Linked DNA regions of Homo sapiens: region 2 is linked to region 1. Evidence: fine-mapped expression QTL. Tissue or cell type: pancreas. Region 1 holds a variant in brackets; the other region holds the start of a gene. All regions are shown on one strand. Distances are between the middles of the regions.

The links. PIP is the estimated chance that this variant, and not a neighbour inherited with it, causes the effect.
Region 2: it holds the start of NAV1, and the variant in region 1 is fine-mapped to the expression of NAV1 in pancreas (GTEx, PIP above 0.99).

What each region holds. Positions count from the first base shown.
Region 1 is chr1:201,712,334-201,715,012 of GRCh38, forward strand. It overlaps NAV1 (neuron navigator 1), which reads left to right. Exons shown (of 34, transcript NM_001389617.1): 6 at 484-586. All of the region lies in intron 2 of IPO9-AS1 (IPO9 antisense RNA 1), which reads right to left. Among named protein-coding and RNA genes, the nearest start is that of MIR5191, 5.8 kb to the right of the region's middle. RefSeq lists enhancers at 596-1,284, 1,128-1,422. The variant C/A (reference allele first, on the strand shown) is at 1,199.
Region 2 is chr1:201,537,969-201,540,647 of GRCh38, forward strand. NAV1 (neuron navigator 1) reads left to right here and starts at 1,159. Exons shown (of 34, transcript NM_001389617.1): 1 at 1,159-1,374. It overlaps LOC124904484 (a long non-coding RNA gene), which reads right to left and starts at 2,177. Exons shown (of 2, transcript XR_007066793.1): 1 at 2,051-2,177.

The DNA.
Region 1 (2,679 bases):
GATAGGAGGCTTTATACCAGGGAAATTGGCAAACACCACACATCGGTGTCCCCTTCCTCCGAAAGCCAGTTGTTAAACATTTACCAGCACAACCCTGGATAGGGGGTTTCAGGCAGATGTTCCAGCTCATCTCAACCACGAGAAATCTTGCCCAGGACCTCTGCTATGAGAAGCAGGGCCTCCCCAAAACAAAGCCAGAGGTAGAGGCAGTTCCTTGGGGGCTCTGAAAGGAGTGCACAGACACAGAAAGCCATGCCTGTACCCCCTGCCAGGATCTGGGGTTCAGAGGGCTCAATGGCACATGTCCAGGGCCTTTGAGAGGGCCCATTCTGTTGGTTGTCTTTGGGAAAGGGAGGAGGAAGGTGACTATCATGGCCCAGGGACTAGCCTCCTGGGGACACTGTCAATCTCCACTTCCTGACCCCCAGGATCCCAGCATTAAGTTCTCTTCACTCACCCAGCTCTTCCTTCTCTCCCTACCAGACCCAGAGTCCCAGAGAAAGAGGACAGTGCAGAATGTCCTGGATCTCCGGCAGAACCTGGAAGAGACCATGTCCAGCCTGCGAGGGTCCCAGGTGACTCACAGGTAAGCTCGAGCTGCAGAGAGGGTCATGCCCTCTGCCTTCCTGGCTCTCCACCCCATTCTGGAGGGCAGGGCCCCCGGGTCCCTCCACACCTCTGCCAGGTCAGCCAGGTGGCCTGATGCGTGGAGCCACTGCAGAAGGAGGAGGAAATCCATTTATCTCAACAAGAGAAGCTTGGCTTTGTCTTCTGTCTGCTTGTGCCTGAACATTTCATTTCATTTCAGCAAATCAGCTTGAAAATCACTAGCTTAGGAGCCAGGAAGTGGAAGCCATTACACAGCTCAATGTGTGATCTTTGATAGTCAGTCTCCTTCATTAGACCTCTGTCTCCTCAATCTGTCAAGAGAAGGTTTACTAAATGCTCTCTTCCTGTTCCTAAGTCTCCATTAAACTAGGGGTCTAGAATCAATTCCCTTCTCAACACCTGGGTCTTTTCACTCTTGTGTCAGTTAGGTGCCCCCTGGCCTCTTCTACGAGCCACTGAGGGAGGCTTGAGTGCTCAACAGGGCCCACACAGTGTCACCCAGCTCCATGCCCTGTTAGGTGTGTCCCCCTAGCCCACTCCCTGCAGAGACCTCATAGCCTCCAGCTGCATGGGGCACTCAGCCTTCCCA[C/A]GGCACCTCTCTCTGGAGCAAAGTCCTGGCCACAGGCTCTGCTGTGACTCAGAATTTCCCTTGCTGGCTCCTTGGACTGCCCAGATGAGCTCATGCTGTCAGCTCCAAGTGGGGCAGAGGGCTGGGCTAAGCTCTGGGGACAGCGGGAGGCAGAACAGACAGCCAGATTGGGAAATCATGGGGGGTGTGGGGCAGGAAGGCTGTGTGAGGGCTAGGAAGCCTCCCCAGTTAGACTGGAAGTAGATTCCTCTCCAACTCCTGGGGCTGGAAAATTAAGAGCAAAGTTGGGACACAGGGGCAGTGGAAAAGGACTTTCTTTAGCCCAGGGTGTGGCCATTTGGGATTCTGAGGATGGGACCACACCCATGGACATATTTACATACCACCAATGACAAAGAACTCATTACCTTTCTTTTTTTATTTTTAACATAGGCTTTTTAAAAATATTTTGTTATTATTTTTAAAGACCGAGTCTCATTCTGTCGCCCACTGCCTCAGCCTCCCGAGTAGCTGGGATTACAGCTGTGTGCCATCACGCCCAGCTAATTTTTGTATTTTTAGTAGAGATGGGGTTTCACCATGTTGGCCAGGCCAGTCTCAAACTCCTGGCCTCAAGTGATCCACACGCCTTGGCCTCCCAAAGTGCTGGGATTACAGGCGTGAGCCACCGCGCCCGGCCAACTCACTACCTTTCAGTCACCCCGGTGCATTGTGGGATTGCAGCAACTCTGATGTGGAACTGCACTTAGTCTTAAGTAGCTTTCAGCCGTTGGCTGTAGTTCTTCCTGCTTAGATGACCCTTCTCCTTCTCCTTCCTTGTACTACTCCTCCCCCTATCCCCAGCCCATGCCCGCATCTTGGACACTCAGCCCTTTACTCCCAGACATCTCGAGTATTTTAAATGGTAAGATAAATCAAAACTCTCTGGGGATTACCTCTGCTCAGGCCAGCAGAACCCTGACTACTGAAAGGGAGGTGACCAAGGAAGTCCTGGAAAAAGGTGGATGGTGGGGGCTCCAGGACCCCCTTACATCTGTCCCTTACTGCCATCCCTCATAGCCCCAAGCCCCCAGCAGGAGCCCAAGTGAAGCAGGGATCTGGCAGAGCTTGGCTTATCAGTTTAGGACCCAGCGGATGAAATCTTGGACATCTGCCTTCCCCCATCCAAGGAAATTGTTGGAACATCTCTCAGCACCAAGTCACCCACCAGCCTCATGCCAAAGACACCAGAAAGTGCTTAGTTGCTGAGAGGGCCACACCCCAAATGACTCACTCACAGGAGTAGGAGAGAAGTAGCAGCTCCAGCCTCCTGGTGCCACTGACTCAGAGCAGCCAGCCCCCAGTCCCTCCGTTAAGCCGGACAGCTTGACCCTAGGCAGGCGCTATTGGTTTTCTGCTTCTAGTGGGAAAGGGGAGGCTTCAATCAAGCCTTTTGCATAATGCTGACTGGTTTAGGGGGAGCGTCTAGGGCCTCTGGCTTC
Region 2 (2,679 bases), 170 kb before region 1:
CCAAATTCAAAGCCACTGTGGCCTTACTGACTGTGTGGGGCGTTCAGGGAGGACTCAAGGGCTCTCATCCTGACTCTGCTCACACTGATTTTGCTGGCAAAGAGCTGTGAGACCTCCCAGGGAGTAGGCAGTTTTGCTTTCTATCCATCAGTCCTCCAACTTGCAACCCCATGGCCCTGGGAATAGATCAGTCCTCTTATTTGTTGGCAGGAGCAGGGGAATCTGCTGGGTCCTTGGCCACAGCTACTCCCTTTCCAAAGCCTGCTTCAAAGCTCAGGTCATCTGGCTTCCTTCTGCCTTCTTCCTGCAGACCCTGGAAGTCCCCAAGCCAGGAGGCAGGGGGCTTGCACTGCTTCTGCAGTAGGTTCTGGCTGAGGGCCTTCCTCCCATTCACTCTCCTCAGGTCCTGTCATTTCCTCTCTCCTCTTCTTCCCCCTCCTCCCACTCCCAAGTCCCTGGAAGAAGGAGGAGGGGCATCGGCTGTCTGGAAGGTGGGGAGAAGTCACTTATTTTACTGAGCACCTACTATTTGCGGGGCACTTGCGGGGCCTCCCCCTCCTCTAAGACAGCTCAGACAGCATGACAGTTCAGTGGGGTGGAGAAAGAAAGGAGGTGGGTGCCCGGGGTCAGAAGTCGGGTGGAGAGGCTGGCCCATCCATCTGTCCCCTTCTCCTAAAGAACTGCGGCTGAACCAGCGAGCGGTACCCGGACGACATGTGGGGGAGGGAGGAAACCCGGCCTGGAAGTGGCGGTGGCGGGTCCCCGGGCAAAGGAAAGGCTCAATTGTGCAAAGGCTTCCTGCCCTGCCAGCTCGCGGGTCCGCCACCGAGCAGCCGCCTTTCTGCGGCCAGCCTGGGAGGCGGGACGGGAAGGCGAAGGCAGCAAAGGGTTACGGGAATAGCTTTCCAATGACAAAGTCTGGAAGGGACCCATGCCTCCGCCCCTCTGCGGGTTAAACTGGCACAGTGCAGGGGGAGGAAAGCCAGGGCGATCGGACGGATTCTCTCCTCCTGCCCGCCCCCCGGCCGCCAGGCACTCCCCTCCTGGGCCCGCCGTGGAGGCAGCCGGCGTGTGCCTGGGGCAGCGGGTCACGAGGCTCCGCCCCGGCCGCCGTTCCCGAGGGGACGGCACTTTGTTCAGGATGCCGCCTCCCTCCTCATTGTGGGGCCGGGGCCGGCGGCTGCCCTAGTGCGGGGCCCGAGGCTGGAGTGCGCGGCGGACGCCAAGCCTGGTGCGAGGGGCCGAGGCGGCCTGGGGAGCCCCGGGAAACTTTGTGCTCGCGAGAAGCGGACCCCGCACCCGCGCTGCCCTTGGGGATGCGCGACTCTGCGCGGCTGCGGCGCGGACCCGGAGCCCGGGCGGGCAGGCGCTCCGGTGAGTGGCCGGCGCGGGGCGGTCGCGCGGTCGCGGCGCTGAGGGTCTGGCGCTTCCCGTTTTGCGAGGCTTGGCTGGCAGGTCCTGCGAGGCCGAGACCAAGTCTCGGGGTAGGGGAGGTTGGTGCCCGAGGGAGGCTGTGGGCTGGGCTCGGGAGAGGCGCTGGAATAAATAACAACCAAGATGCTCGCGGCTTCCCGGGAAGGTGTGTGCCCTTTCGACCCCTATGGGACTGACTGCGCGTTTGATTCTAGAGTTGACTCTCCGGGGGGGCTGCCTAACTTCAGTCCCTCTGAGCCTCAGTTTCCTTGTTGTGAAATACCCACAATTTAAAGTGCGTTGAGATCTTATCATGAGACACCAGGTGCTGCGTTCTTATACTCGCACCCACACGGCAAGCACACACCCTACCCGCACCTCTGCCTTTCGTTGAAGCAAGAGTTAACTCCTCCCATCCCAGCAGGAGCCAGAGGAACAGCTGGGGCAGGTGACCTCGCGGGCCGTTCCAGAAAACGTTCCCCGCACCCCCGGGATGCGCCGGGAAGCGCCCTCCCGCCAATCTCCCGGAGGCCGTCCTCTCTGGCGCCCGCCCAGTGCGTCTGGGAGCGGAGAAAGTGGTCCCGGAGGAGAGGGGAGAGAGGAGAACGCAGAAATTGGGTGATCACGGGGAGCTCACCTGAGCGCTCCCGAGGCTTGGGCTCTGGTCCCTGCTAATCCCCAGAGCCGATAAAAACTGGTCATAGGATAAAGAAGCAGCTAAGTTTGCAGCGGGCAGAGGGGAGGCAGGAACTGGAGAGGACGCGAGTGGCGGGTGGCGGGGGCGGTGTGTAGGGGTGACGTCCACCCGGCAGAGAGGGTTCCTTGTCCCCTGGAGCCGAACACAGGAAAATCAGCTGGTGAGTCAATGGGACTTTGTTAGGATAGTCACAGGGCGCAGCTGGCGCCGGCTTAAGGGAAGAGCTGGATCCCCCCTTGATAACATGCTGTTTATCTGGCTTCCTGTTTCAATGATTGGGATACCATTGGCTCGTTCAAATTCAATGCTGAGAAGCCTGTGGGCACGTTCGTTCACTGTGCAAAAGCAGAGGGCTTGCCTGGGTTTTCATCTGTGGGCTAGCTCTTGTTCCCCCTACATGAAGTCCCCGGCAACTCACTTGTAATGGGACTGGAGACTTCGCAAAAAGAATGGCCTCCCCAGGAGGAGGATCTGACGATCTGACACTGCAGAGACCTTGGCTTCCTTTAGGCCAGAGATATATATGATTCCAGCTTGCTTATGACATTTTTTTAAATCCTGCTTTGACT